Linked DNA regions of Homo sapiens: regions 2, 3, 4, 5, 6 and 7 are each linked to region 1. The links come from fine-mapping of genetic effects on gene expression. A gene starts in region 1. Each other region holds a variant in brackets. All regions are shown on one strand. Distances are from middle to middle. Region 1 holds the start of TUBGCP2 (tubulin gamma complex component 2). Region 2 overlaps TUBGCP2 (tubulin gamma complex component 2). Region 3 holds the start of PRAP1 (proline rich acidic protein 1). Region 4 holds the start of PAOX (polyamine oxidase). Region 5 overlaps ECHS1 (enoyl-CoA hydratase, short chain 1). Region 6 overlaps ADAM8 (ADAM metallopeptidase domain 8). Region 7 overlaps PAOX (polyamine oxidase).

Region 1 (4,062 bases):
GTACAGACACGGCCCCGAGGGGTGTGAGTGCGGATGACCACGGCCGACTGCTGCAGGAGGTACAGGCATGGCCCAGAGGGGTGTGAGTGCGGAGGCGCTGCGCCCGCTCATTCCCACACCCCCTCTGCTGCCTCCACCGGCACAGAGCTGGGCAGCCAGGGGCTCCCCTCCAGCCTCCCTTCGGCAGGGTGGCCGCTGGCACAACCACCTGTAGCTGTGTTGCCAGGGCTTCAGGTACCTGCAGGTGAACACCCCATTAGGTGACACACAAGTGCTTAATAAGTCTGACCGTCTATGCATTCCGGCTAGTTGGAAACCTTTTCCTAAAATCAAAAGCAGACACGTGCTGAGCCTGGCGGCTCCCTACCTTCTGCTTTTCTTTGGCTTATCAAACCGGAAGTCCGCGGGGTACAGGTGCATCCTCACCATGTGATCCTTCCGGTCTCTGCTGGTCTTGAACTTCTCTGTGCAGCCTTCTACCAAGCACTGATACTGAAATGGAGACCGTGTCACCTCCCTCTGACCCCTGGCCCTCCCCCACCGCCATGCCCCCGTAGCAGAGCTGCCAAGGGCGGAAAGGTGTCCCCGGCCTTGCCCGAGCACCCGAGAGCTGGGGGCAGCACTCTGAGCCCATCACCAATGGGGGGTGGCCTCGGCGGCTGTGCAGTTGTCACCCACCATGTCCTGCCTCTCAGACAGGATCTGGAAGAGCGAATCGTGCCACTCCAGGATGTGGGCGTCCAGCAGGTGTCCGGAAGGGAAGGCCCGCTTGCAAAAGGAGCAAACATTTCCGTGCAGCGTGTGGTAGTGGTGCTCGTAGTCGTCCAGGGCATCGAACACCTGGCAGCAGCCGGCCACCTGGCAGGCAAACGCGGGCACCCTGCCAAGGAGACGTGCTTCAGGAGCCCTTCCTCCGGTGCGAGGAACCAAGCTGGACTTTCTGCACAGTTTCCCTTTGAGACGTCCAATAAAGCCCCTATGCATCTTTTGCAATCCCAAACCCTCTTTTTATGAATTAAGTTTCACAAACAGGCTAGGTGGTGGAAGAGTCGGCCACGCCAAAGCTGGACAGGCACAGCGCCTCGGTGGGGCGGCCGCACATGGAAGAGCGGCAGCACAGCCCCAGGGACCAGGCACCGGTCAGGGAGGCGGCGCAGGAGTAGCACTGGCTAGGCACTGCCCATTCGCTTACCTGGGCTTCTCAGGCACGTCGGCCACCTGCATGATCACGTCCTGGAGGTAGAGGTGGCGCTGCACGTCCCCATCCTGCAGGAAAAGTGCGCCGTGGGCGGGGCCAGGTGACTCGCGGCACGCCCACCGCGTCAGGCCTCGCCCACACCCGTGGCCCCAGTCATCCCGCGCTCCGGTCCCGCCCCACAGCCTCAGGCCCCGCCCACTCCACGTTCCGGCCCCGCCCCACCACCTCAGGTCCCGCCTGTCCCAGGCTCCGGCCCCGCCCCGCAGTCGTAGGCCCCTCCCACTCCAGGCTCCGGCCCCGCCTCGCCGCCGTAGGCCCCACTGGATCCTACAACTACTTTTTCCCTCTTTTGCTCACGCACCTCGAAGAACTGGTGCTCCCGCGGGAAGCGCACGGGGCGCGCAACGAAGCGAAAGGGCGCGGCCCCAGCCGCGGGATCCCGCTCTACAGGCAGCGGCTCCGCCGCCCCGGGCCCCGCAGCGAGGCGGGCGCACAGCGCGGGGGGCAACTGCATCACCCCGGGCGCGGGCGGGCGCAGCCTGTCGGCCACCGTCCGCGAGCCGAGCCGGACGTGACGTCACGCTCACTTCCGCCGCCGTCGGGGGCTGCGCGGGGGCTGTGGCTCCGGGACTGCGGTGAGTCCTGGCCGAACGCGGGCGCGGGCGTGATGAGGGGGTTGGGGGACTGCCAGGCCCGGGGGGGCCCACGAGGCGACGGGGCTGGCGGGACGCGGCTCTTCCCGCGCGCTCCCTCTGGCTGTGCAGCGGTCCCCGAACTCTGGGGCCGAAGCCCTTCGGGCCTGCACCGGCCAGGCCAGCGTCTTGCCCCGCGGCCCGACACTCAGCCGGGGCGGGGCGGAGCGGGCCTCCGGGTCGTCCCGGGTGTCCCCTCCCAGCCCTGGGAAGCCGGGTCGCAGGTCCCCCTCTCGCACGCCCTCTCCCGTCCGCCTTGCCCCGCCTGTCGTCTCCCGCTGCAGTCCCTGGATCTTGTTCCCTCTAAACCAGTCGCGAACTGGAGCCAAAGTGACTCCAGTTTTATTGTAACCGTTTTTAATTTAAAGCCCTTGGGTGACTTCCCGTTACTTTAGTTCAAAGGCCCTTTCCTGGTTTGTCGGGGTCCTGTCGACCTCTCCAGTCCCCGCAGCTCCCGTGAAACACAGGACCTGTGCTAGGTGCTCAGGGCGTGTGGGGGAAGGCATCACAGGAGGGCGCGGCAGCCTTGTAGGAGAGACAGACGTCAGAGTAAAGAGTCACCTAATTAAAATGGTGAATGACAACACACGCGGGAAGCAGTGGACGCTTCAGATCTACTGCAGAGAATGGGCCCAGTGGCGGATAGAGGCTTTAGCTTTCTCGTCTGTCACCCAGGCTGGAGTGCAATGGTGCGATCATAGCTGATAGATCGCTGCGGCCTCAAATTCTTGGGCTCAAGTGGTCCTGCTGCCTCAGCGTTCCAAAGAGCTGTAACTGCAGGCGTGAGCCACCATGCCTGCCCCTGTACTTTTTCCATGTTTAGATACACAAATATCTCTGTGTTACAGTTGTCTAGTGTTCAGCACCGCCACCTGCTGGGCAGGTTTGTAGCCCACGAGCAAGAGGCTCCTCTAGGTGGTTTAGGTGCATTGTAGGCCGTACACCATCCAGGTCTGCGAGTGACTCTGATGATCGCACAGAAGGAAATCATGTAACCATACGTTTCTCTTTTTTTCTTTTGGAGATAGTGTCTCTCTCTGTCGCTCAGGCTGGAGTGCAGTGGCGCGATCTGGGCTCACTGCAACCTCTGCCTGCTGGGTTCAAGCGATTCTCGTGCCTCAGCTTCCCAAGTAGCTGGGATTACAAGTGTGCGCCACCAGGCTTGGCCAATTTTTGTATTTTTGGTAGAGACTGGTTTTCACCATGTTGGCCAGGCATTTCTCAGAATGTTGAGTGATGCATGACTGTACTTTCTGTCTCTGTAAAAGCCTTTGGGCTCTTGACATTTTCCACAAGTTGTAAAATAACATTTTTCAAACCAATTTGTACAGTTAGCTTTGAGCTCTCAACAGAGACTCTTTTTCACGTCCCTCTGTGTTTTAATCACTTGGAGTGTGTGCTCACTAGGAGTGTGTGCCCCGCTTGTCCGTGGTGGAGTGTGACATGCGTGCATTGCTTCCCTCAGCACGCGTCCCTGCGGTAGCTCACAGCCTCTGTGAGGAGGACGTCAGTCCCTCCCAGTCACAGTTGCTGGGCCTGTCAGTTTGTGTGATTAATAGTAAGAATTCAGGAGCATCAAGAAGGCCAAGTCAGCGGCCATGGCTAGACGTTCCTCCAAGAAGCAGCCACGGCTAGATGTTCCTCAGAGCTGTGTTTTCAGTGGGACGCTGTGCATTTCTGGCGGGACAGCTCTGTTGATGATTAGCATCCCCCGCCCTTGCCCTCTAAGTAGCGAGAGCACCCTTCCATGACCGTGACACCCCAGAGTTGCCCTAGGACTTTTCCAAAGGTCTTCTGGGGGGAGGGACTCTGTGCGAGTACGGGCTGCCCTCTTGGAGGCCCGGTCCCCACATTCAGGGAGAGCAGCAGGCTCCTCATGGGATGAACACTCATGACGTGCGGGCATCTGTGCTTCTATTTCTAGAAGAGATACGAAGTTTCCTGAAGGTAGTTTTTATTTTTTTTATTATTATTTTTTGAGACAGAGTCTCGCTCTGTTGCCCAGGCTGGAATGCAGTGGTGTGATCTTGGCTCACTGCAAGCTCCGCCTCTCGGGTTCATGCCATTCTCCTGCCCCAGCCTCTGGAGTATCTGCGACTACAAGCGCCCGCCACCACCCCCGGCTAATTTTTTTGTATTTTTAGTAGAGATGGGGTTTCACCATGTTAGCCA
Region 2 (4,062 bases), 27 kb after region 1:
TGAAAGCCACTTTCCTTTCACAGGGAGACAGGAAGTGCAGGAGAGGCAGGGCGAGGGGAGAGGCAGGGAGTGCAGGAGAGGCAGGGAATGCAGGGAGACGCAGGGAGTGCAGGAGAGGCAGGGAGTGCGGGAGAGGCAGGGCGTGCGGGAGAGGCAGGGAATGCGGGAGAGGCAGGGAGTGCAGGGAGACACGGAGTGCAGGAGAGGCAGGGCAAGGGGAGAGGAAGGGATCCCCCAGGGCGGGGCTGCACCCACACTGCTGGCCACACACGGGACCCCTTGCTGCCTGCCGTCCTAGGGGGACTCTGAGCCGTCTTTGCCCCGAGGTTGTCTCTCCCACATTGCGCATCTGAGGCTGAGGGGCCTGAAGGCAGAATCTGTTGGTACCAAATTCCAGAAGCTGCCGCAGCCTCCCTTCCTGTCTTCTGCCTTAAGAAATGAAACCCCTTCGGGGTGTGCCCATCATTTTTTTAGTGGTGTTTGGAAGTTTTCCCCTAAAAGCCCAAGGCCCATTTAAGAGGTAGAAGTGCGTAAACAGGAATGCACAAAGCCAGAACTGAGCACGTGCGCATGCAGGGCCCGTCTGTCAGCCACGTCTTTCTGAGAAGGGGCTTGGCCTGTTCCCCGCAGGCCTCCAACATTGACGACGTCCTTGGCCACCACACAGGCTTCCTGGACACCTGCCTGAAGGACTGCATGCTCACCAACCCCGAGCTGCTGAAGGTCTTCTCCAAGCTCATGTCTGTGTGCGTCATGTTCACCAACTGCATGCAGGTGCGTGGGTGTGGGTAGCACCATCGGGTGGGCAGGCGCGGGTGGGCAGACCATGTCCCGACCGTGGCCGCACGCAGCCTGCTCACGTTTTCCTGCCCTTGTGTTCGTGGAGGAGCCGCTGGGATCTGAGTGTTTCCAGAACTCCTGGTCTTCCTGGCCGGGTGATTCCCTCCTGGAGCCCCTGCCCTGGCAGCGTGGGCAGGGCTGTGTTCCTCCCGAACCATCCCTCAGCCTCTGTGGTGCTGGTCTCTGTCCGGGGCCTTTGCTTATGGCCCTTGCATGCTCTTTTCCTCAGCACTTGAGCTATTTGATTCCGTTAAGGACCTGCAGGCACTAGTCACAAGCAGCTGCCGACTGGCGATGGTGCAGAACCTGCGTGTCTAGTGGCAGAAGCAGGGGTCTGAGAATGAGGCTCTCCAGGCAGTGCCATGGGGAGGGTCCGGAGGAGGGCGAGTGGGGAGGTGGAGGAGGGCATGGCCACTTCAGGGTCCCAAATAGGGAAACACCAAAATAACTGTTCTCAGGAAAATCAGCTGGTCACCGTGGAAGGTAGACCTGGGAATTCTGTCGGCACAGATAAGTCATTTCCCCTGCAGCCTCAGAGATGCTTGTGTACCCCCAGCCGCAGGCTACAACAGAGGTGCGGAGGGTGACGTGCCTGCAGGACTTGTTTTTTCTGCAAAGCATTGTGGTTGTAACTAACAGAAGCATTTCCTTGCGACTCTCCCCCCCTAGAAATTTACACAGAGCATGAAATTAGATGGCGAGCTGGGCGGGCAGACGCTGGAGCACAGCACCGTCCTGGGGCTGCCCGCAGGGGCCGAGGAGCGGGCCCGGAAGGAGCTCGCCAGGAAGGTGCGTGGCCTCCAGGTTTGGCCAGAGAGAGACGCTTCCTCCCGGCTGGGCGGCAGCCTGGGCATCCTGACGCAGGGAGAACAAACCTCCCCCCTTTTACTTCCATCTCCCCTCAGATTGAAGAAAAGACTTAAAATTAGCTTCCAAGCACAAGCACAAGAGCCTCTCACAATCTTCTCAGCTCTCTGGTCCCCACTTCAGCCAGTCGGGCTCGAGGGAACCCCCACAGATCTTCAGAGCGAGCGCTGTGCAGGGCGCCTGGGCGAGGGCAGGGGCCACACCCGCTGTCCCTGCTGAGCTCGGTCCTGAGTTAGAACCGTCAGGCTCTCAGCAGGCACGGACAGGCTGCATGTCCTCGGAGGCATGGCCCTGCGGCGCCGGCTCCGGGGTGGCATGGTGGGGTGGGCAGTCCCGTGTTCACACGCTGGAGCTGGAGCTGGCAGAGAGGAGTTGGGTTTGGAAGCGTGGGGGCCGGAGGTGAGGGACACTGAGAGGCGCCCCGACCTCCTTGCTGAGAAAGCTGCTGGGAAAGCTCGTTCATCTCACCCCAAAGGAGAGTGACCACCTCATCCCA[C/T]GAGGCCTGGAGTGTTTCTCTGAGTGCTGGGTTCTCAGGAATGTTTTTTGATGTCTTTTTTACCTTGAATCTCCTGAAAACATCATGGAACCCATGTTTTCTATTTAAGAAAAGGGGAAGGGAAAGGACACCGGCCTGCTGGGAACAGTGTGGAGCCAAGAAGGCCCACGGTGGGGGTGGGCATGGCTCACGCACCCCGGCTTTCTTTCCAGCACCTGGCTGAGCACGCAGACACTGTGCAGCTGGTGTCCGGCTTCGAGGCCACCATCAACAAGTTTGACAAGAACTTCTCAGCCCACCTGCTGGACCTCCTGGCCCGGCTGAGCATCTATAGCACCAGTGACTGTGAGCACGGCATGGCCAGCGTCATCTCCAGGTGGGTGGGCGCCACCCCGGCTCAGCCCTTCCTCAGCTCAGTCCAGCGCCTGCCCCTGCCCAGCACCGCCCTGGCTCAGCCCTTCCTCAGCTCAGTCCAGCACCTGCCCCTGCCCAACACCGCCCTGGCCCAGTGCTGTCCCTGCTCAGCCGTCCCCCAGCTCAGCCCAGCACCTGCCCCTGCCCAGCACTGCCCTGGCCCAGTGCTGCCCCGGCTCAGCCTTCCCCCAGCTCAGCCCAGCACCTGCCCCTGCCCAGCACCGCCCTGGCTCAGCCCTTCCTCAGCTCAGTCCAGCACCTGCCCCTGCCCAACACCGCCCTGGCCCAGTGCTGTCCCGGCTCAGCCTTCCCCCAGCTCAGCCCAGCGCCTGCCCCTGCCCAGCACCGCCCTGGCCCAGTGCTGCCCCGGCTCAGCCTTCCCCCAGCTCAGCCCAGCGCCTGCCCCGGCTCAGCCCTTCCTCAGCTCAGCCCAGCATCTGCCCCAGCCCAGCGCCACCCCAGCTCAGCACCTGTCCCTGCATCCAGGCCCCATCTCCCCTGCACCCTCCCCTGGTCCACCTGGTGTAGCCTCCTTCAGAAGGTGGGGCAGGTCTGTGTCCTGGTGCTAGTGCTGGTCATATGCCACTCCCTGAAGTCAGGCTAGCCCAGCTCTCCCTGGGGTGTGACATTCTGTGCAACTGGGCTGCCCCATTGGCACCCTGCGGCTGTGTGTGTCCTGTGGGGCTGATCAGGCCTGGGTCAGCTTCCCTCATGCTGCACTAACACCTAGCCTGGGGGAAAGGGCCAGGTGGCCAAACTGCCAGCCTGGAAGGGGTGGTGCCCTTGGGGGTGCTGTCCTTGGGAAGGTGCCTATTTGTGCTTTTGGACCACCCTGTGCCCTGTGCCCCCCACAAATGTTCTGATTTTCTGAGCAGGGATTTCTGAGGCCACCCTGCATTGAGAACCACTGCTTGGTTCTCCAAGCCCCTGACACCTCAGGCCCCATTGCTAGGCCCTGTTGGGGTGATGGGAGCCCCAACTTTCTGGGGCCAGGAGAGAAGAAACCTGTGTTTGTGCCTTTGAGCAGGACTGAACAGGACTGAAAACCTTCCTGTGGAAACATTAGTTAGGAGCGTGCCTCACCCTCACCCCTGCAGGGCCTCTTATGGTCTCTGTAGCTGAACACTTCCCCATGGTAGGAGCAGGGCTGCTCAGGACGGACCCGCAGAAGGAGTGTGTGCCCCAGCTCCACTGTCCTTCCTCACCCCTGCTGCCCAGCACGCACCCGCAGAAGGGGTGTGCACCCTAGCTGCACCGTCCTTCCACACCCCTGCTGCCCAGCATGCACCCGCAGAAGGGGTGTGCACCCCAGCTCCACTGTCCTTCCTCACAGGCTTGACTTCAATGGTTTCTACACGGAGCGCCTGGAGCGCCTGTCTGCAGAGAGGAGCCAGAAGGCCACCCCCCAAGTGCCTGTCCTGCGGGGGCCCCCGGCTCCTGCACCC
Region 3 (4,062 bases), 40 kb before region 1:
AACAGGGCCCGTCCCCAGGCATAGTCCCGGCTGAGGACACCACTGTCAGCACAGACAGTGCAGCTGAGCCACTAGCACATGGAGTCACCTCTGGCCTTCAAGGCCCAGGTGAGTATCAAGGGGTGTCATCCGGGCCCTCCTCCACCTGGGTCACATGGGTTCATCTGGGATCACCTGTTCCACTTGGGACCACGTGGGTGTCATCCGGGCCCACCTCCTCCACCTGGGGTCACGGGGGCTCATCTGGACCCACCTCGTCCACCTGGGGTCATGTGGGCTCATCTGGACCCACATCATCCACCTAGGACCACCTGGGTGTCTTGAGGCCTGTCCATCTGACCCCAGGGAAGGGAAGCCTGCCCCCTCCTCATGCCTGCACAGGCATCAAGAGTCATGAGCGTACCCATGCCTCTCTCCCCTAAGCCAGCTTGGGGTTTGAAGCCAGAAGAGGGGCCCTTTGTCCACATCCCCTGCTGTAGGGGCAGAAGGTGACAACTGGAGTTGCTGCCCAGATGGGAGGGGCTCACACCTACCTTGGGTGCTGGGACTGCACCTGCCTCCCACAGCAGCACAACCACCAGGCTGGTGACCAGGAGGAGCCTGAGGGGGGGCCAGAGAGGGAAGTGTGAGGTAGGGGAAGGGGACGCCCTGAACTCCAGGCAGCACCCTGATGGGCAGCTGGGAGGCCTGGGCTGGGTTCCTCCTTGGGAGCGCAGGTAGTTTTACTGGACTGTGCTCACATGGGCCAAGACACGCAGGCACAGAACAGGGAGAAGCCCCAGGCCCACCTGCCTCCAGCCCCCCTCAGGCCAGAGCCCACAGCCCCAGCCCCAGACTCTGCTCCTCACAGTCTGGGCAGACCCCACTGTGGCAGGCACTGGTGGTTGGCTTGGAAACTCCAGAGGTTCTGCCATGCCTCTGTGCCGCCCTCCACGTGGGGACACACATGAACACACTTGCACATGGGTGTGGGTATGGGTGGGTATGGAGCAGCGAGGGCCCACAGCCCCACGCCCACAGAGCCCTGAGGCTGCACGCTGCTGCAGGCAGGGCACCTGCTGTGTCCCAGAGCTGCGGGGCCACGGCTGGGGGGCTCAGGGGTGAATGGCAGCACTATTAGGCAGGCAGGCAGGGTGTCAGGTCAGTTCGGACACGGGATGTGTGTGTTTGTGTATGTGGTGGGGGGTGTGCATATGTTGTCTGTGCATGTGTGTTTTGTGGGTGTGGACCATGTGCATGGTGGGTGTGCATGTATGCTGTGGGTGGTGTCGTGTTCGGGTGTGTGTGCACTGTGTGCTTCAGTGTGTGGTGCATGTGTATGTTGTGTGTGGTGCGGAGTGTGTGAGTTCGGGGGTGCGTGTGCTGTGTGTGTATGTTATGTGTGTTTGTGTGTGGTGGATGTGTGTGTATGTTGTGTGTGGTGTGGAGTGTGTGGGCTTGGGTGTGTGTGTGTGCTGTGTGTGCATGTATGTGTTGGATGTGTATGTATGTTGTGTGTGGGGTGGAGCGTAAGGGTTTGGGGGTGGGTGTGTGCTGTGTGCATGCGTGTGTGGTGTGTAGAGTGTGAGGGTTTGGGAGTGTGTCTGTGTGTGCGTGCGTGTGTGATGTGGTGCAGACTTGTCTCTTCAGGGCCCTGCGGGGGAGGCTTGCGTCTGTCAGGGTGGGGTGGTCTTGGGGTGGGGCGGGGCTCTGGGTCTGTACAGGGCTCAGCAGGGCTGCAGTCAAGGGTGTCTGGGGCAGGCGCAGTGGTTCACACCCATAATCCCAGCACTTTGGGAGGCTGAGGTGGGCAGATCACCTGAGGTCAGGAGTTTGAGACCAGCCTGGCCAACATGGCAAAACTCCGTCTCTACTAAAAATATGAAACTGCCTGGGCACGGTGACTCACGCCTGTAATCCCAGCACTTTGGGAGGCTGAGGCAACAGATCACTTGAGGTTAGGCATTCGAAACCAGCCTGGCCAATATGGTGAAAACTTGTCTCTACTAAAAATACAAAAAAAAAAAAAAAAAAATTAGCCAGGCGTGGTGGCAGGTGCCTGTAATCCCAGCTACTTGGGAGGCTGAGGCAGGAGAATCACTTGAACCTGGGAGGTGGAGGTTTCAATGAGCCAAGATGGCGCCACTGCAGTCCCTCCAGCCTGGGCGACAGAGCGAGACACTCTGTCTCAAAAAAAAAAAAACAAAACTTAGCTGGGGGTGGTGGCACACACCTGTAATCGCAGCTACTCCTGCTGAGGCAGAAGAATCAGTGTCTGGGACACCCTGCAGGCCTGGATTGCAGCTCCACAGGGAC[C/T]TTTGCCCGTTCTCTGGGTGACTCAGCCATGGTGAGAGGTCAAAGGGCAGGGGGGATGCCCCGGACAGCCCGGGGCCGGGACCTGGTCTGGTCTGGTTCGGGGGCCCTGCTTCTCCTCAGGACCCCCAGCTGGTTCTGATGCTGGGCAGGGGCTCTTGTCTGGGCACTGGACCCCAATCCCACTGCCGTGCTGCCTGGGCCACCCCTGGTGCCCACCTCCCATGACACACAGCCTGGGGGCCTGGGATTCGGGTCACGGTAGCCCCTAGAAAGGTGGTCGGTGGTGACTGCCAAGCAGCCTGGCTGTGGGATCCCCGTGGGTCCCCTCTCCAGGCAAACGGCTCTGGGCACCAAAGGGTCCCCAAGCTACCCAGAAGCCACCTCTCTACAAGGGAGAAACACCAGGAGAGGAGGGGCAGGGAGGGCCCTGGCTTAGAGGAGGGGGAAGAGGAGGAGGGCACCTCCACAGGAGCGGGGAGAGGGGTCCCCCACACAAGGAGGGGGAAGACAGACACCCCCACAGAAGGAAGGCAGCCTCTGATTCCAGGGTCCAGCGGGAGCCCGGGTGCTTCCCTGAGCTCCAGATCACAGCTCCCAGGGTGACACCACCTCAGGGCAGCCCCTGGCTCCTGCGCCCCAGCCCCTCCCCTCCCCCAGCCCCCTTCCTTTTGGGCAGTCACAGGCCTGCTGGTTTCAGCCTGGCACCTCCCCTTTCCTTGTTCCGGGTGGGGGTCCCTGGGTGATTCTCCACCAGGCCAGGGGAACCAAGAGGCAAGTGCACTCGGGGCCACAGAGGAGGTAGAGCCTGGTGGCAGACCCCAGACCCTCAGAGGGCCCCTCCTTCTCCCTCCCACCCGCACACTCCCCTGAACCAGGCCCCCTGGAGCGCAGCACAGCTGGGCCCCCTCTGGCTAAGGGCCAGGCCTCCAGGTTTGGGTGGGGTGGGGATTGGGGCTCAGGGATGGTGGCATTACCTCCTCATGTCTGGGGTCCGCGTCTCTGTAGAGAGTGCTCAGGGAGCTGCAGTGGCTGATCCCAGTATCTGGCACCCGGCCCAGCTCCTCCTGCCCAGGCCCAGGCCAATTGGGGCTTTGTTGCTGCCGCTTGGGGCGTGTCAGGACAGAGGTCGGGGCCAGGGATCCCACCCTGGGTAGCTCAGGTGACTGGCTCTGCAGCCGCCCAGCCCACTCGGGCCTGGATCTGAGCGGGGACACCCAGCTGCCTGCTCAGGGCCTGCCACACGACTGAGGAAGAAATTTGCCTTTAAAAACATGCTTGTTGACCGGGCGCGGTGGCTCACACCTGTAATCCCAGCACTTTGGGAGGCTGAGGCAGGTGGATTGCCTGAAGTCAGGGGATTGAGACCAGCCTGGCCAACATAGTGAAACTCCGTCTCTACTAAAAATAAAAAAAATTAAGTGGGCGTGGTGGTGGGCTCCTGTCATTCCAGCTACTCAGGAGGCTGAGGCAGGAGAATTGCTTGAACCTGGGAGGCGGAGGTTGCAGTGAGCCGAGATTGCGCCACTGCAGTCCAGCCTGGGCAACAAAGAGCGAAACTCAGTCAAAAAACAAAACAAAACAAAACAACACCAAAAAAAAAAAACCTGCTTGTCATGAAGGCTGAACCGTGCTCACAACCAAGGCAACTTGGAAGGGTGTCGTGGGCAGCTGTCCCCAGCTCAGCTGAAGCACTTCCTTCCTCAGGTGGGCGTGACAAATCCCCCATCCAGCCCCAGCCCACCTGCCTGTCACACCTGCCCCTGCCCA
Region 4 (4,062 bases), 70 kb before region 1:
GCCTCCCGAGTAGCTGGGATTACAGGCATGCACCATCACGCCCGGCTAATTTTTGTATTTTTAGTAGAGATGGGATTTCACCATGTTGGCCAGGCTGTTCTTGAACTCCTGACCTCATGATCCACCTGCCTCAGCCTCCCAAAGTGCTGGGATTACAGGCGTGAGCCACCGCACTCAGCCTTACCTTTCCTTCTTTTAAACACTCTCTCTCAGAAATAACTTTTTTGGCTTAAATGAGCAAAACTAGGGAAAGGAGCAACCAGTCTGTCGGAATGGGGAGGACAAATGGTCTCCTGTCCCTCCCATACCCAAGCAAGAGCGGAGCTCAGCCAGCCCCGGTGCCCTGGGGAGCCTGGTGGGAGGACTGGCGGGGCAGGGGCTCAGGCACGCACTTAGAAAAGGTGCAGTCCAGCCCCGGCAGCACGGTATACTCCCCAAAGGGTGCCAGGGCCACCAGGTCCATGCTGTGGGTGCCGCTCACACAGCATTCCAGGTTGAAGAAGGAGTTCAGGACGGCCAGCTTCAGCTTCCTGGTCTCCTCATCCTCTGTCCAGCCGGCCACGTGCTGGCCAATCTCCTTCTTGAGGTACTCCCCGACGCTGGGCACCGGGGTCTCTGCAGCGTGCAGGAACTCCCGGGTCTGGTCTATCAGGCCGTAGAACAGAGTCGCCATCTCCGCCACCAGCTGGAGGCTCACGCTGGCCCCGGAGCTGGCGTAGCTCACGGAGGGCAGGCCCACGTGACCCCCGGTCTCCACCAGCTGGTTCTCCTGGGACAGCTCCTTCTCCCCCAGCAGCCCGTACTCAGCAGCCAGCTGGAAGACGGGGTTACCCCGGGAGGGCCCATGGATCCAGTGCGCGCCCACCTCCACCACGCCACCTGCGAGGGGACAGCAGATGCCACCTGGAGGTCCCTTTCCTAGAAGGGTCACCCCGAGCCCTTCTCCTGGGCCACGCCCACGCTGGCCTTCCCAAGGAGGATGTACCACACTGTCCCCAAGGGCCCTGTGGTCCCCCAGGGCAGGGCCCTGTCAGACCCAGTTTAAGGGGAGCACCTGGGCAGGAGGGCACTTGTCGGGCGGTGTGGACCAGAGGGAGGGGCGCAGGGTGGGCGTACCCCGGGGCTGGGGGGGCCCCCGTGGGGCAGAATCAGGGCGGCCTTGTGGAGCCGTAGGTCGCCTTCCCTGGCCGGCGCCCTCCTGACTAACTCTGAGCCCTGAGTTTCGGGGCGGTGAACTCTGGCGGATTAAGCGAGCGGGGATTCCCTCGGGGAGCCCGGTGAGGCGGCCGGGCAGGTCGGCTGCGCGCAGGGCAGGTTGGGGCCGGCGAGTTCGGGCGCAGCCGGTTGGGTTCCGGGAGGGGCTCCGGGAGGGGCGGTTACCGAAGCAGCGCTCCGAGCGGATGCGGCCCCCGGCGCGGGCCGTGGCCTCCAGGACCCGCAGGTGCGGGAAGGCGGAGTGGCCGCAGAGCCTCTGCGCCGCGCCCAGCCCCGCGATGCCGCCGCCCACCACCAGCACCCGGGGTCCGCCCGGGGCCTCCCCGACGCTGCCGGTCGACTCCATCGCGCGGTCCGGGCAGTCCGAGGGCTTCTGAGTAGCCGGGAGGTCTGGAGCTCTCGGAGGAGGCCGGAGGCGGAGCGAGGGGGCGGGGAGGCGCTGGGAGGGGCGGGGAGGGGCGGGGAGGCGCGGGGAGGCGCGGGGAGGGG[C/A]GGGGAGGGGCGGGGAGGGGCGGGGAGGCGCGGGGAGGGGCGGGGAGGCGCGGGGAGGGGCGGGGAGGCGCGGGGAGGCGCGGGGAGGCGCGGGGAGGCGCGGGGAGGGGCGGGGAGGGGCGGGGAGGGGCGGGGAAGGGGCCGGGCCGAGCCCCACAGTGCGCCTCGGCCTCCGCGAGCCTCCGGACTGGGCTCGGGTCTCAGAGGGAAGCGCCCCGCGTGGGAGGGCCCGCGAGGACAGGCGTCAGGGAGCGTCCCGCGCTGCCGGGCGGTGCGCGCGAGCGTCCCCATGGAGGGAGAAGCCGGCCGGCCGGGCGGGCCAGTGTCTCCTCCAAGGGAGACGAGGGCGCAGCGAGCGCTTCCCCCAGGGACCCGCGTCGAGTGCGAGGGCGCAGTGGGTCTGGGGGTGCCACGGTGTCAGGGGTGGGACCTGGGAGAGCTTAACGCGTCCGGAGGGGGGCTGTGAAAGCCTCCAGCATCGCCAGCGAGCCGTCAGTTCGCGTGTGCGCGCGCCTGCGTGTGCGCGTGTAGTCACAGGGCTGCAGGGACACAGGACCAAAGTACAAAGTACACTCGCAAAGTACAAAGTTCAGAAGCCGAGGGCAAGTGCAGAAACGTCCCTCGCCCGGGAAGTTGAGCGCACACCCAGGCACGCCTGTGTTTCTGGAGAATCCCCGGTGCAGGCGGCCGAGTTTTCTGCTGCATCGCAGCCCGCGGGGGTTGGAAAGGCTCCCGCCCTGTTTTCAGGCGCGTCCCCGCCTCCTGAGCCCCGGTCCTCTGCCGAGGGGCCGCGCGCTCCAGTTTGCCAGCGTGAGCTTCACTCTTCGCTCTCGGCGTGGGCCTCCTGAGCCGTGTCTTACTTTCCTTTGATTCCCTCTCGTCCCAGCTGGAGAAAAGGCTCCCGGAAGGGTGACCTGGTGTCGCTGGATTCCACTCCCCATCACTCCCTAGCCAACCCCGCGAGCTGAGCTCCAGGCAGGGAGAGGGGCGGGTGCCTGGGAGTCGGGCTGACTCCCTGGGCGGTGGCGGGCAGGGGTCGAGCGTCCTCTGTCCGTCAGGGGCCCGCAGCACCAGGAGGCGACGCTGGATGCAGTGGCCATCTCCTCCTGCCTCCAGGCCATGGGGAACCCAGGGCGGATCCCGGGTCAGCAGGGCCAGCTGTCCACCAAGCTGACCCACCCGACATGCCAGGACTAAGGAAAGAAGGGCTGCCCCACACCCTTAGTCGGATGGCAAGTGTTTGGGGTGCAGCCCCCGCCACGAGTGTCACCTGTTCTGCCTGAGCAGGCTTCTCTCTTACTCCCTGCTCTTGGGCCTGAAGCAGAGCCGCTGGCTCAGTGGGGCGCTCCATTCTGAGGTCCCTGGCATGCACCACGGAAGCCCAGCGGGACCACCCACCCACCTGCCCCAGCTCCCCAGCGGAGGTCCTGAGATGGCAGATTAAATACTCTGGGGTTCTGAATTCCACAGATGAACTGGGTCCCCCACGGGTATGGCCAAGGGAACGGCCCACTCCCTAGTGGCTCCGTGTGAAATCGAGCTGCTGCTGCTCTCGCCGCAGGGCCCAGCTCACTGCCCAGACATAGGAGCACATCGCCCTGCGCACAGGCTGGGTGGGCACAGCTGTGAGGGAGGCCACCCCATGCCTCAGGCCTCCTGCACAGGCGTGGGCCTCGCCACTCTGGGTGGACAGGCTACTTTGGCCCCTCAGCCTCTGGGGACTGCTGCCCTGTTTTCAGCACCGTGTCAGGCACCATCTGGTCAGCCAGCTCCTCCAGCCCCGAGACTCCCGTGTCCTCATTCTCCTGGGCCGTTACGGTCGGCCAGTGCCCAGCCTTTGCTGGAAGGCTGTCCAGGCTGGGCTCTGGTCAGGCATCGATGTCCCCCAGGCACCTGGCCTCACCTCGCGTTGGGACAGCCTCTGCAAGATGGAACAGGAAGGGTCTGGCTTTGCCTCTGTCACCTTCTCCCGGTCCATCATGTCCTCCTGGCCAGCCCGTTCCTGGTTCCTGCGGGGAGCCCAGCCCGAAGGGGAACCGAAAGATTCTAACTTAACTCTAGTTCAGCCTCCCGGATCCTCCTGTGGAGCGGCAGGATCCCATAAAAGATACTTGGCTCAGCAACTTGCTGGCCAAGCCTCCCCACAGCGGTCCACACAGGCCAGAGGTAAACATGCCCATGCCCCACACCTGGAAGGCCTGGTGCAAGGAGGGGTGATTGTAGTGACTGAAATGGGAACTCTGGCTTTATGGCGCGGAGAGAGAAGACATGGACCCAAGAGCTGCAGGGTGGGGACAACCGACGCGCTCTTTGTCCCCTGGATGTGGTGCCACAGCCTGAATCCAATAGCACGGGCCG
Region 5 (4,062 bases), 54 kb before region 1:
GTATCGTTTCTTTCTGGTCAGAACTGCCAGCCTCACCTTTAACGGGATCAGATTGGTTCCATCAGTGGGTCTTGATGTTAGGAAAAAAGTAGAGCATGTACAAGTTCAAAAGTACAGAAACCTTACAGGGGCTTTTCTTGTTTTTCCTGTTATGTGAGGTCTGTGAATTGCACCCTCAAGCAGCTCCTTTATTGAAAATGCAGTTTCAGCCGGGTGGGTGTCGAGCATCCGTAGCCCCAGCTTCCTGGGAGGCTGAGGCGGGTCGTTCGAGTCCAACTGGGCAGCAAAGCAAGACCCCGTCTCAAAAAAAAGACTTTTTTAAAAAATGAGGCCGGGCGCGGTGGCTCACCCTGTAATCCCAGCACTTTGGGAGGCTGAGGCGGGTGGATTGCCTGAGCTCAGGAGTTTGAAACCAGCCTGGGCAACATGACGAAACCCGTCTCTACTAAAAATCCAAAAAATTAGCCGGGCGTGGTGGCAGGTGCCTGTAATCCCAGCTACTCTGGAAGTTGAGGCAGGAGAATCGCTTGAACCCAGAGGCGGAGATTACAGTGAGCCGAGATCACGCCACTGCACTCCAGCCTGGGAGACAGAGTGAGACTCTGTCTGAAAAAAAAAATGTAACTCATTTTACCCATGTTTTTTTAGATCATTCCAATTATTTGGAATAGGCTCAAATGTATTCTAATAAGATAAGCTGAAGCTTTAGAGCAATATTTTATAAGATTTCTGCCAGTAACTTAAAGTAATTCCTCTAATTACCATCATAATTTTAATTTTCTTCCCTTTGAGGCAGAGTCTTGCTCGGTCGTCCAGGCTGGAATGCAGTGGTGAGATCTCAGCTCACTGCAACCTCCACCTCCTGGGTTCAAGTGATTCTCCTGCTTCAGCCTCCCGAGTAGCTGGGATTACAGGTGCCCACCACCACACCTGGCTAATTTTTGTATTTTTAGTAGAGACAGAGTTTCACCATGTTGGCCAGGCTGGTCTTGAACTCCTGACCTCAAGTGATCTGCCTGCCTCGGCCTCCCACAGTGCTGGGATTATAGGCGTGAGCCACTGCACCCGGCCAGATTACCATTTTAATTCATGTCTTTCACTGGGAGAAAGTCATACTTCGGTGTTTTAATTGTTCTATAAAATAAAAATTAAAAGTGGTTTGGGCACCTGAGGAAGGGGTACAGATGCGTGTGTGTGTGTGTGTGTGTGTGTGTGTGCGCGCGCGCACACCTGGGGACACACGTGCACACAGTGTAAGAAAAGCAGATGCAGAGTTGAGTTCTCACGTCCTACTCCAACACAGAGTAGCCCCTGATACAGGCCACCCATCATCCAGTTGATGACATGGTGAGTGACCAAGATGGGTGCATCTGAGGCTCTTTAGATGTGAGCTTGTTGGACATACACAGTGGCTCCTGAATGACCGTCACCTAGACTGGTAGAGAGAGGCCGTGAAAATCCCCGCGCCCAGGCCCAGCTCTGATTGGGCAGGTGTTCCTGCCGCTGAGTCCCCTCCCCGGCCCCCTGGGCCCCTGTGAGCATGAGTGAGGCAGAGCCAGGGAGAGACGGGCGGACATTGGCATCAGGCTCTGTGAGGATACTGCGCGTCCAGCTCTGTTTCTGTTCCTTTTCCTGCCAGGATGACCGGAAAGAAGGGATGACCGCGTTTGTGGAAAAGAGAAAGGCCAACTTCAAAGACCAGTGAGAACCAGCTGCCCCTGCTTCACACCTCTGCTTGGAGAGGACAAGTGCAGCCTGTCAGTTTTAGAAGCAAGTAAATCATCCTCTTTTCAAGAGCAGTGTCCGTGGTGTGCAGTTCCTCTCCAATTGCTGCGTGGTCGTGGCCCGACCTCTCACGGCATGACAGCCTTCGTCACCCAGCCTGTGAGGGTCCTGACTGGAGCACCTTCTAAATCTAAGATTCTGCTGAGGAGCCCCCGCTGGTCCCTCTGGGCATGCTGTGCTCGGACGGAAAGCGGGGCCTG[C/T]GGGTCCTTGTGTCCCTGCCGCTGAAGAATGGGGCTGCTCTGAGGGAAACGCTGTCTGCTGCCTTCATACAGATGCTGATTAAAGTGATAGCGATTCAGATTACACCACGCCTTGTAGTCATGTCTGCAATGAGCATTCTGTCATGTTAGTTGTTTTTTTAAACTTTTTTGTTTTTTCACTGTAAGGAACAACATTCAAACAAAACAAGTTTGTATAGTCAGTTGCCTCACATCATACTTCCAGGGTAGCCACTGTGAACAGCTGGGCTTGTGACTTCCTAGAGTTCTGTGCACGCACCCACACACCCCTGCACACGGGCACAGGCATGGTCTATGGTTTTCTTCCACGCCCACTCACGTCGAGCCCTTTCCTCACGAGAGCCCACCCTATTTTCTTCCTACTTCTGTCATAAGGAGCTCTCTGTTCAGTTTACTGCATTCTTCTCTACTGTGGGAACACACGACGTCAACTTGATCATCTTAACCACTGTGTTTTAGAGACGGGCTGGAGTGCGTGGCTCAGTCACAGCTCACTGCAGCTTGAATCTCCTGGGCTCAAGTGATCCTCCCCCCCTCCCAAGTAGCTGGGACCACAGGGGCGCACTCCCACACCCAGCTGACTGTTTAAATTTACCTTTTGTAGAGACGGGGTTTCCCCGTGTTGCCCAGGCTGGTCTGAACCATTTCAAATGCACATTTCAGCGGCATTAAGTACGTTCTCGTTGTGCAGCCATGACTATCCAAGAAAGCTTTCATTTTCCCAAACGGAAACTGTCCCCGTTAAACAACAACCCCTTTTCTGCTTCCCTCCAGCTCCTGGCACCCACGCTTCTACTTCCTGTCTCTATGGAGGGACCTCCATTTATCCCTTTGGGTCAGGCTCATTTCACTCAGCCCCACCCCAAATCCCTGGGTTGAAATCCTAACCCCTACCGTGACTGCATTAGGAGGGGGGACTTTGGGCAATGACTAGTCACAAGGGCAGAGCTCTTCGAGTGGGTTTAGTGTCCTAGGAGAGAGAGGGTGGAGCTCCTCCAGTGGGATTAGTGCCCTATGAGGGGGCGGAGCTCCTCCAGTGGGATTAGTGCCCTATGAGGGCAGAGCTCTTCAAGTGGGATTAGTGCCCTATGAGGGGGCAGAGCTCTTTGGGATTAGTGCCCTGTGAGAGGGCGGAGCTCTTTGAGTGGGATTAGTGCCCTATGAGAGGGCGGAGCTCCTTCAGTGGGATTAATGCCCTAAGAGAAGGCAGAGCTCTTCCAGTGGGATTAGTGCCCTATGAGAGGATGGAGCTCTTCCAGTGAGATTAGTGCCCTATGAGAGGGCGGAGCTCCTCCAGTGGGATTACTGCCCTATGAGAAGATGGAGCTCTTTGAGTGGGATTAGTGCCCTATGAGAGGGCGGAGCTCCTCCAGTGGGATTAGTGCCCTATGAGGGGGCGGAGCTCCTCCAGTGGGATTACTGCCCTTAGGAGAGCCCTGAGGGCACTCTTTCACCCCTCCCACAATGTGAGTGCTCTGTGGGAAGGTGCTGTCTGTAAACCAGGGTGGGCCTCATCACACACCGAACCTGCCTGGAGCCTTGGCCTCCAGAACTGTGGAAAGTCAGTGTTTATCAGCCACCCAGACCATGCCACTGCATCACAGCAGCCCAAGCTAAGGCACATACTGTCCAGAAGGTTTGTGCCTGTTGTGGCATGTTTCACCATTTGATTTTCTCACTAAATGACAGTCCTATAACATTCTTTTTAGTGGCCCTGACGTTTCATACTATGGACATGTCATCATGCCCTTGGTTCTAGGTATTTCCCCCAGGGAAGCCCACCTGCCCCCAGCTCAGTGCAGACGCCAGAGAGCGTTTGCCGGTGTCTCCTCCACTTGGCCCCGCAGCTCAGTGTGCGTAGGTGGTCTAGATTGTGGTCATGGCCTTGGGTTGGGTGGGCAGAGTGTGTGAGCCCCCACCGCTGAGGACTTGGGCTGAATACCAAGGACAGGTTCACCTGCATCAAGAAAGAAGAACAGTGATCTTTGCCGAGCTCTGGTTCCCTGAACGCTGCAGGTGCCACGCCCGTGTGTCCGGT
Region 6 (4,062 bases), 40 kb after region 1:
GTGACCTCGAGGAGTTCTGTGACGGCCGGCACCCTGAGTGCCCGGAAGACGCCTTCCAGGAGAACGGCACGCCCTGCTCCGGGGGCTACTGCTACAACGGGGCCTGTCCCACACTGGCCCAGCAGTGCCAGGCCTTCTGGGGGCCAGGTGAAGTGGGCACAGAGCTGGCCTGGCAGGGTGGCTGCAGGCCTTGCCAGGGCTAACCCGCTTCTGGTCCCACAGGTGGGCAGGCTGCCGAGGAGTCCTGCTTCTCCTATGACATCCTACCAGGCTGCAAGGCCAGCCGGTACAGGTGAGCTGAGACCGCCCTGGGCCCAGGACATGTGCTGTTCCCACAGCGGGGTCAGCCCCAGAAGGGCCTCTGCAAAGGGTCCTGCTCCCATGAGGGTCTGCTCTGGACCCATGGACCCCAGGCTCAAGCGCACCGTGTTGTGGGAGGGAGGTGGGTCACTGTGGCTCCTGGGCTCCCCAGCATGCTCCCAGGCAAGCTGGCCCACGACCTGCCGTCCATCCACAGGGCTGACATGTGTGGCGTTCTGCAGTGCAAGGGTGGGCAGCAGCCCCTGGGGCGTGCCATCTGCATCGTGGATGTGTGCCACGCGCTCACCACAGAGGATGGCACTGCGTATGAACCAGTGCCCGAGGGCACCCGGTGTGGACCAGAGAAGGTGAGCCCCTGGCTCAGAGGCCGCGCCACCCCCCAGGCATCCCGGGCATGTGCCCCACGTGGGTGCAGATGCGTTTCTGAGCTTGGCAGCTGCTCGAGGCCATGGGAACAGAGTTCTCTCCGCGCTTCTAGTAGAGACTGAAAGGTTTCCGGGGGTGGGGAGAGACATGGTTCTCAGTTCATCTGATGGCCGTCGCCGGCGGCCACGTGCCCCAGGAGGGCCACTTCCCAGGGGCTTTGGGGGTAGGCAGCCGGCAGATGGGCTGAAGCACAGCCACCTTGGACGTGGTGACCACAGCCCACCCCCAGCTTACCATGCAGTTTCAAGGGACGCTGGCGGGGCAGAGGTCCAGAGCGGCTGCCTGAGAGACGCCTCCTACCCCCAGGTTTGCTGGAAAGGACGTTGCCAGGACTTACACGTTTACAGATCCAGCAACTGCTCTGCCCAGTGCCACAACCATGGGGTATGTGTGGCCTCTCGGGACAGGGCCCCTGCACAGAGGCTGCCGCTCTGAGGGAGCCGGTGCTGGGGACAGCTCTGGACACGGGAGCCTGAGGCTGGGGGAGCCTGGCGTGTCCTGTCCATGGGGGTCTCTGTGGAGCCCCTGTCGGCTGAGGCCCGGCCTGGGTGGCCTCCGTGGATGGAACCTGCATGGTCACCGGGCAGCGGGCAGGGGCTACATGGAGAGGCCTCGCCGTCGGCGCATGTGGGCAGGGACCGAGGGGCCCTCGGGGGTGGGGCTGGCCCGGGGCCCTCATGCTGGAGGCACGGCCCCCACGGCCCCTTGGGGTCCACAACAGGGTTGGCCCTGAGCCCAGCCGTCCCCGCAGGTGTGCAACCACAAGCAGGAGTGCCACTGCCACGCGGGCTGGGCCCCGCCCCACTGCGCGAAGCTGCTGACTGAGGTGCACGCAGGTAGGCCTCCCTGGCCAGCGCAGGTGGGGCTGGGGTCCAAGCTCAGAGGGCCCGAACAGAGCCCAGGCAGAAGCCGCGGGCCCGGGAAGCTGGTGGTGTTCACGGTGCCAGTTTGCTGCCACAGGCATCGACACACAGGTATAGGCAGAGCCTGTCTGTCCCCAGGCTGATGTGAGGAGGGGAGAGCCCTGTCCCAGAGGGAGGCAGTGGCCGAGGGCAGGGCACGGCCGTGAGCTGAGACTCCAGTGTCCTCAGCCTGTGTCTTCCAGCCCCTCCTCGGCCCGGGGCCCTGAGGCCACCCAGCATTTCCTCCCCGGCGGCCACTGAGCATGTGGTCGTCCAGAGCATCAGGCCTCAAAGGCACAGCCGTGCCCACAGCACTGTGGCCCAGGGCCACCCTGCCAAGCTCTCCAACCTGTCACTGGCAAGCTGGGAGTGCCAGTGTAAGGTACCAGGTCCTCCCTGAGGGGTCCACAGGGCACAGCCTGGGGGTGCTGAGAAAGACCGTGTCTCTGGGAACCTCCCTGGCTCCTGCCTGAGGTCGCGGCCTGCCTGCCTGATGTGGGGCCGTGTGTCCCACAGCGTCCGGGAGCCTCCCCGTC[T/C]TCGTGGTGGTGGTTCTGGTGCTCCTGGCAGTTGTGCTGGTCACCCTGGCAGGCATCATCGTCTACCGCAAAGCCCGGAGCCGCATCCTGAGCAGGTGAGGGTGGTGGGGGCTGTGACGGAGGGTGGCGAGTGCTTCCCGTGCTCAGCTGCCAGAGGAAGGAGTGCCCAGCACGGGCCCATGGTGGACGGCACGGACACCCAGGCTCCTCTGTGCCCCGACGTCATGACGCCCCCCGGCTTGGGCTGAGTTTGAAGGGCCTTCCTGGCTCCACTCGGCCAGTGCCACTCTGGACTCCACCTTCCCCTGAGGCTGGGGCGGGGCATGGTTTTGGTGGCCGGTTGGGCTTGGGGCAAATCCAGAGAGGCCCGGTGGGGTCCCCCATACCCTGACCCAGCCCCGTGAGCACCCTGCCAGTTTCCTGCTGAGCCCTGCTCTAGGGACCTGGACCCCCACACAGCAGGAGACCCCCACGCAGCAGGACACACTGGCCCCACAGCCTCCAAGCATCTCCCGCCCACCTGACTGGGGCCCCCAGGACATGGAGGGGGTGTCCCTGCCTCTTCAGGGTCCGCCCCACCTCCTGGGCCTGTCTGTCTCTCATGGCCACAACCTCTCGCCCTGAAGCCTCTCGGGTCGGCTGGAGCTGGGAGGGAGAGACTCGGGGTGTGGTGCTGGGGCCCCATGGCCGGACACTGACCATGCGCCCTGTGCTTCCTCCCCAGGAACGTGGCTCCCAAGACCACAATGGGGCGCTCCAACCCCCTGTTCCACCAGGCTGCCAGCCGCGTGCCGGCCAAGGGCGGGGCTCCAGCCCCATCCAGGGGCCCCCAAGAGCTGGTCCCCACCACCCACCCGGGCCAGCCCGCCCGACACCCGGCCTCCTCGGTGGCTCTGAAGAGGCCGCCCCCTGCTGTAAGCACCACCCCTGGCGGGTTCATGAGGCCGAAAGCAGTGCCCAGGCCCCATCCTGCGACCCCAAGTGCAGCCCGAGGCCAGCAGAGCCCTTTCATTAAATTCACGCACAGGCCAGCGGTGGCCCCGAGGCCCAGAGCAGCTGCTGTGGTCGCCCTGCTGGGAACACTGAGGCTTTGGGAGTGGGCACTTCCCAGACCCCTTTGAGCCATGATAGAATCTGAGCTTGAACTTAAACTTGGGGGCTCCCAGCCCAGGGAAGCTTCCTGGCCTCCACAGAGCCCATCTGAGGACAGTGTCGAGACACAAATGCTCTCCGGCCCCCAGCTCGGGATCACACGGCTGAGGGGAGGAATGGGGCGGGGCCTCTCATCTGGGGTGGGGCCCTGTGGGCCGCGCAGACGCCTCCAGCACACACAAGAGGCAGGAACCTCGGATCCTGGAGCTGGGGGTGCTGGAGGGGCACGGGGGTCCCAGCTCTGACCCAGGCTCTCGGCCCTGTCTCCTCCAGCCTCCGGTCACTGTGTCCAGCCCACCCTTCCCAGTTCCTGTCTACACCCGGCAGGCACCAAAGCAGGTGAGCAGTGGTGATTGGGCGGCCAAGCCTTCTGAGGGTGTCCAGGCCTTCCTGATGGGATTGGGGTCTGTGCACTGCACCGGGGGCCAGGGATCCCCAGGTGGCCCCTGCTGTACACAGAAGGCTGGTTAGCCCGACCTCGTGAGGACATCAGACAGAAAGGCAGGTCAGCGAGGCCACAGGAAGGCAGGAGCTCAGTCCTGCCCTGCGTTGGAGCTGGTTTGGGGGTCCTGGCTCCTTCTCCTTCCACTCAGACCTGCTCCGCCCACCAAGCCCCTCCCAGAGCTGAAGCTCTGGCAGAGAAGAGGACTCCCTGGGGCCCTGCAGGACAGATGGGTGGGTGGGCTCAGGGCAGGGACACGTTCCGCGCTTCCCTTGGGTTTGGG
Region 7 (4,062 bases), 81 kb before region 1:
TTTCAAGCCAGACTGAAATCTGTCAGAAGAAATGAGGGTCCCAGCCTACCCCCGACACGGGTGGAACAGAGTAGGCTGGGCCCAGCTAGAGCCTGGGCCTGGGCTGCTGCACCTGCGGGGCCCACAGACTGAGGAGGCGGTCGGCCTCCCTCCATCCCGACAGCAGAGCCCCGTGCGTCGTGGAGTAAAACGTGCGATGTGTGGCTTCCCCCGCAAACAGGATCTGGAGCTGCAAAGAAGAGCCAGGGTTAGAATGGGGATGCAATTCAGACAGCAGGGTCTGGGCAAGGAAACACAGAAAATGGCTCACAAGCATCCACCAAGAAGCAGGAAAACAGCTCACACACCTCCACCAACGGACGAGAAAAGGGCTCACGTGTACCCACCAATAGCCAGGAAAACAGCTCACACACATCCACCAACGGGCAGGAAAACAGCTCACATGTATCCATCAACAGCCAGGAAAACGGCTCACACGCATCCACCAACGGGCGGGAAAACGGCTCACACGCATCCACCAACGGGCGGGAAAACGGCTCACACGCATCCACCAACGGGTGGGAAGACGGCTCACACGCATCCACCAATGGGTGGGAAAGGAAGCCACTGCACCCCGCAGCTCAGGTGTGAACAGCTTTTAGAGAAAACAAGGGGTGTAAACACTGAATAGTGATCTGGCCTCAACTCCTGGATCACATATGGGGAGGGTGGGGGAGGGATCTGGGAGTCGGGTGGGCAGAGGAAGAAAGCTACAGCCTTATCTGATGTAATGAGAAGTCAATTAGTAACACCTGAAACTGAAAACTCAAGAAGCAACATTTCCAAGCAGGTTCACTGAAGAGAGACCATGAGCTGATTGGAAAACTGAACAGTGACTAAATATTGGATCATATTGAGGAATGATTATTAATTTTTAAGTGGGTAAATGGTATCATAGTTATATGGTTTTATTTTTATGTTTTCTGAGACAGAGTCTTGCTCTGACACCCAGGCTGGAGTCCAGTGGTGCAGTCATAGCTTACTCCAGCCTCAACTTCCTGGGCCCAAGCCTGAGCAGCTGGGACTACAGGTGCATGCTACCATGCCTGGCTACTTGTGTGTGTGTGTGTGTGTGTGTGTGTGTGTGTGTGGAGACCGACTCTCACTATGTTGCCCAGGCTGGTCTCGAACTCTTGGCCTCAGCAAACCTCCTGCCTAGGCCTCCCAAAGCACTAGGATTACAGGTGTGAGCCACTGCCCTCAGCATCATAGTTAAGTATTTTACAAGGATGTCTTTATCTTTTAGAAACAGGCACCAAAATATCCTGAGGTGAGACAATGTCCTGTGTGAGTCATGCTTAATAAAAAAGGGCGGGGGTGGGCGGGGAGAAGCTTGGCTTAGGGGAAGCCTGGTGGGCACTGAAAGGTTCTCCCTACTTTAGTATGTTTGACATTTTGCACAGGAAATGTATCTCAAAACGTGGTAGCAGAAACATGTTTTTAGAGATGCAGTAAACTTAGCGATGAGAATCAGCTGGGAGCACCGTCTGAGAAGGGCAAAAGGGGCTCCACCTGCCATTTTGGTTTTATTTTCTTTTGTTAGCACTGCAGAATTCTCTGACTTTTTAAGCTGTGTGTGTATAATTCTCACAAAAACAGTACATTTAAAAATTATTCTTAGTTTCAAAAAGAAAATGGCTTCCGAGTCTGGGATCCCAGCCCACCCGCCACTGGCTGGTGCTCCTGCAGCGCCCAGACTCGGCGGGGGCCTCTGCAGCGGGACCCACGCCCCCCGACTGGGGCACGCCACATACCTGGGCGCCGGCGCCGTCTGCAGGGAGGGGCTGAGCCAGCAGGTCCAGGTCGCCCCCAGTACTGCCCACGGCCACGTAGCTGTAGGACCCCCTAGTGTACGGGGCGCTGTGCCAGCGAGACCGCAGGACGCTCTTGGGCGCGGGGAGCCGTGGGTTTCCTGAGCCACAGAGACACTGCATGTTAACCGAGAACTCTCACCCACAGGTCTGCAACTGTTTTTGTCATTTTTAAAGATTGAGCAGTTTAACGTGAAAGATGCTATGCAGGAAGAAAAGTGAGCAGCAGAGTGTGTCAGGAGAGGCTCTTCCTGCCGCCTCTGACCCGAGAGCAGTGGGCTGGGACCCGGGGGCCTCTGACCCGACAGCAGCGGGCCGGGACCCGGGAGCTGTGACAGCAGCAGCTACTGTTTCCGAGCCTTGGGTTCCTCCTCTGTAAAAATCTGATCAAGGACAACGGCATTTATTTTGGTGGCAGAAGTAGGAAGTGTTTGCAAAGTCATTTCAGTTCCTCGGAGGTAAGAACTGTTACTGACCCCACTAACATGAGGAAGGATGGTCCCTGGAGATGTACAGAGTCAGCCAAATTTAGTTTTTCTCTGTTCTGCAAAGTCTAGTTTCTGTTTAGAGATCAACCAGTAACGAGCAGAGGCAGGAACC[A/G]GCGTGTGTGGTGAGTACCTACCTGTCACTCTCCGGAGCACTTGGGTGAGACACAGAAGTACTTCTTCATCCGACAGAGTCTCCATGAACTCAGACTCAAGTCCGGCAATGAACCCACAGAGAACGTGGACAGACCTGCATGGAGAAAGAGAGCCCTGGGATGACCAGACCTGCATGGAGAAAGAGAGCCCTGGGATGACCAGACCTGCATGGAGAAAGAGAGCCCTGGGATGACCAGACCTGCATGGAGAAAGAGAGCCCCGGGATGACAGTGTCCAGCCCAGCTCTCCGCCCGCGTTTCTCAGCAAGGAACCACTGATGGAGCAGGGGCCCCAGAGGCACAAAGAGCCACCCCACAGAGCGTCCCTCAGGCAGCAGTTCGCAGAGTGTGGGCGGCAAAGTCCTGGGGGTCCGAAGGCCCTGCCAGGGACCCTCAAGGTCACAGCCATCTTCAGACGCTAAGACAGCATTTGCTGTTTCCACCACGCCGACATTTGCACCTGAGCAAGAGCCAGGGCAGGTAAACCGTCCCTTAGCAGAATCAGGCAGCAACAGGATCCACATGCGCCTACAGGCGTTCCCACCACTGCACATGAGGGTTACAAAATGCTGCTTTTTGCAGCCGTCAAAGAACGAGATCATGTCCTTTGCAGGGACATGGATGGAGCTGGAGGCCATTATCCTTAGCAAACTAACACAGGAACAGAAAAGCAGACAGCACATGTTTTCCCTTTCAAGTGGGAGCTAAATGATGAGAACACACACTGGGGCCTATGGGAGAGTGGAGGATGGGAGGAGGGAGAGGAGCAGGAAAAATAACTAATGGGTACTAGGTTTAATTCCTGGGTGATAGAACTAATCTGTACAACAAGCCCCCATGATACACGGTTAGCTACATAACAAACCTGCACGTATATCCCTGCCTCTGAATATAAAAATTAAAATATATATATTAAAAAATAAATAAAAATGCTGCTTTCACTTGAGAATGTCCTTGATCAAAGGCAGTAAAAGTTACTAATTTTATTAAATCTTGATCCTCGAGTTCATGTCTTTTTAATAATCTGCGTGGAGGGCCAGGCACAGTGGCTCAGGCCTGTAATCCCAGCACTTTGGGAGGCCAAGGCGGGCGGATCACGAGGTCAGGAGTTCGAGACCAGCCTGGTCAATATGGTAAAGCCCTGTCTAATAAAAATACAAAAATTAGCCAGGCGTGGTGGCGGGCACCTGTAGTCCCAGCTACTCGGCAGGTTGAGGCAGGAGAATGGCATGAACCCGGGAGGTGGAGGTTGCGGTGAGCCAAGATCGCGCCACTGCTCTCCAGCCTGGGCGACAGAGTAAGACTCCATCTCAAAAAATAATAATAATCTGCGTGGAGAAGCGGGATCCGCATAGAACACTCCTGCTGCGCGTGGTGCACGGTGGCCGTGGAGGACTCACCTAGCACACGCTATTCCAGGCGGGGCTGGTGCGTCTTTCACAGACAGGCTCAGAACTCAGGAGAGCACCAGTCAGACAAATCATGGTGTGGTATTTGGTGACATTTTCTTGAAAATGAGCAAAGTGTCTCTATCACAGGAAAACAACTAACAAATAGTATTTATAGACAATG

Evidence for each region. PIP is the estimated chance that this variant, and not a neighbour inherited with it, causes the effect.
Region 2: its variant is fine-mapped to the expression of TUBGCP2 in whole blood (TOPMed, PIP above 0.99).
Region 3: its variant is fine-mapped to the expression of TUBGCP2 in whole blood (INTERVAL, PIP above 0.99).
Region 4: its variant is fine-mapped to the expression of TUBGCP2 in whole blood (INTERVAL, PIP above 0.99).
Region 5: its variant is fine-mapped to the expression of TUBGCP2 in whole blood (INTERVAL, PIP above 0.99).
Region 6: its variant is fine-mapped to the expression of TUBGCP2 in whole blood (TOPMed, PIP above 0.99).
Region 7: its variant is fine-mapped to the expression of TUBGCP2 in whole blood (TOPMed, PIP above 0.99).

The regions. Positions count from the first base shown.
Region 1 is chr10:133,306,594-133,310,655 of GRCh38, reverse strand. TUBGCP2 (tubulin gamma complex component 2) reads left to right here and starts at 1,784. Exons shown (of 18, transcript NM_006659.4): 1 at 1,784-1,833. ZNF511-PRAP1 (ZNF511-PRAP1 readthrough) reads right to left here and starts at 1,742. Exons shown (of 9, transcript NM_001396060.1): 1 at 1,560-1,742; 2 at 1,193-1,266; 3 at 679-880; 4 at 368-492. The coding sequence starts at 1,712. ZNF511 (zinc finger protein 511) reads right to left here and starts at 1,742. Exons shown (of 6, transcript NM_145806.4): 1 at 1,560-1,742; 2 at 1,193-1,266; 3 at 679-880; 4 at 368-492. The coding sequence starts at 1,712. RefSeq lists enhancers at 1,257-1,551, 959-1,654, 2,378-2,607 and a silencer at 1,298-2,147.
Region 2 is chr10:133,279,790-133,283,851 of GRCh38, reverse strand. It overlaps TUBGCP2 (tubulin gamma complex component 2), which reads left to right. Exons shown (of 18, transcript NM_006659.4): 15 at 631-774; 16 at 1,510-1,629; 17 at 2,416-2,579; 18 at 3,951-4,062. Among named protein-coding and RNA genes, the nearest start is that of ADAM8, 5.0 kb to the right of the region's middle. The variant C/T (reference allele first, on the strand shown) is at 2,204.
Region 3 is chr10:133,346,633-133,350,694 of GRCh38, reverse strand. ZNF511-PRAP1 (ZNF511-PRAP1 readthrough) reads right to left here. Exons shown (of 9, transcript NM_001396060.1): 6 at 534-600. PRAP1 (proline rich acidic protein 1) reads right to left here and starts at 3,322. Exons shown (of 5, transcript NM_145202.5): 1 at 3,270-3,322; 2 at 534-600. The coding sequence starts at 3,277. RefSeq lists enhancers at 1,977-2,636, 2,637-3,296, 3,297-3,956. The variant C/T (reference allele first, on the strand shown) is at 2,296.
Region 4 is chr10:133,376,816-133,380,877 of GRCh38, reverse strand. It overlaps PAOX (polyamine oxidase), which reads right to left and starts at 1,616. Exons shown (of 7, transcript NM_152911.4): 1 at 1,381-1,616; 2 at 393-879. The coding sequence starts at 1,561. It overlaps LOC124902563 (a long non-coding RNA gene), which reads left to right and starts at 1,987. Exons shown (of 2, transcript XR_007062395.1): 1 at 1,987-4,062. RefSeq lists silencers at 1,281-1,690, 1,791-2,050 and an enhancer at 2,024-2,523. The variant C/A (reference allele first, on the strand shown) is at 1,705.
Region 5 is chr10:133,360,511-133,364,572 of GRCh38, reverse strand. It overlaps ECHS1 (enoyl-CoA hydratase, short chain 1), which reads left to right. Exons shown (of 8, transcript NM_004092.4): 8 at 1,640-2,088. The coding sequence ends at 1,705. Among named protein-coding and RNA genes, the nearest start is that of FUOM, 4.5 kb to the right of the region's middle. The variant C/T (reference allele first, on the strand shown) is at 1,986.
Region 6 is chr10:133,266,966-133,271,027 of GRCh38, reverse strand. It overlaps ADAM8 (ADAM metallopeptidase domain 8), which reads left to right. Exons shown (of 23, transcript NM_001109.5): 14 at 1-147; 15 at 223-292; 16 at 518-668; 17 at 1,054-1,131; 18 at 1,499-1,583; 19 at 2,166-2,280; 20 at 2,910-3,099; 21 at 3,611-3,676. Among named protein-coding and RNA genes, the nearest start is that of ADAM8, 7.9 kb to the left of the region's middle. RefSeq lists an enhancer at 1-519. The variant T/C (reference allele first, on the strand shown) is at 2,186.
Region 7 is chr10:133,387,479-133,391,540 of GRCh38, reverse strand. It overlaps PAOX (polyamine oxidase), which reads right to left. Exons shown (of 7, transcript NM_152911.4): 5 at 2,473-2,585; 6 at 1,794-1,951; 7 at 1-229. The coding sequence ends at 86. Among named protein-coding and RNA genes, the nearest start is that of MTG1, 4.6 kb to the left of the region's middle. RefSeq lists silencers at 1,653-1,732, 2,322-2,616, 2,873-3,030 and an enhancer at 2,783-2,912. The variant A/G (reference allele first, on the strand shown) is at 2,451.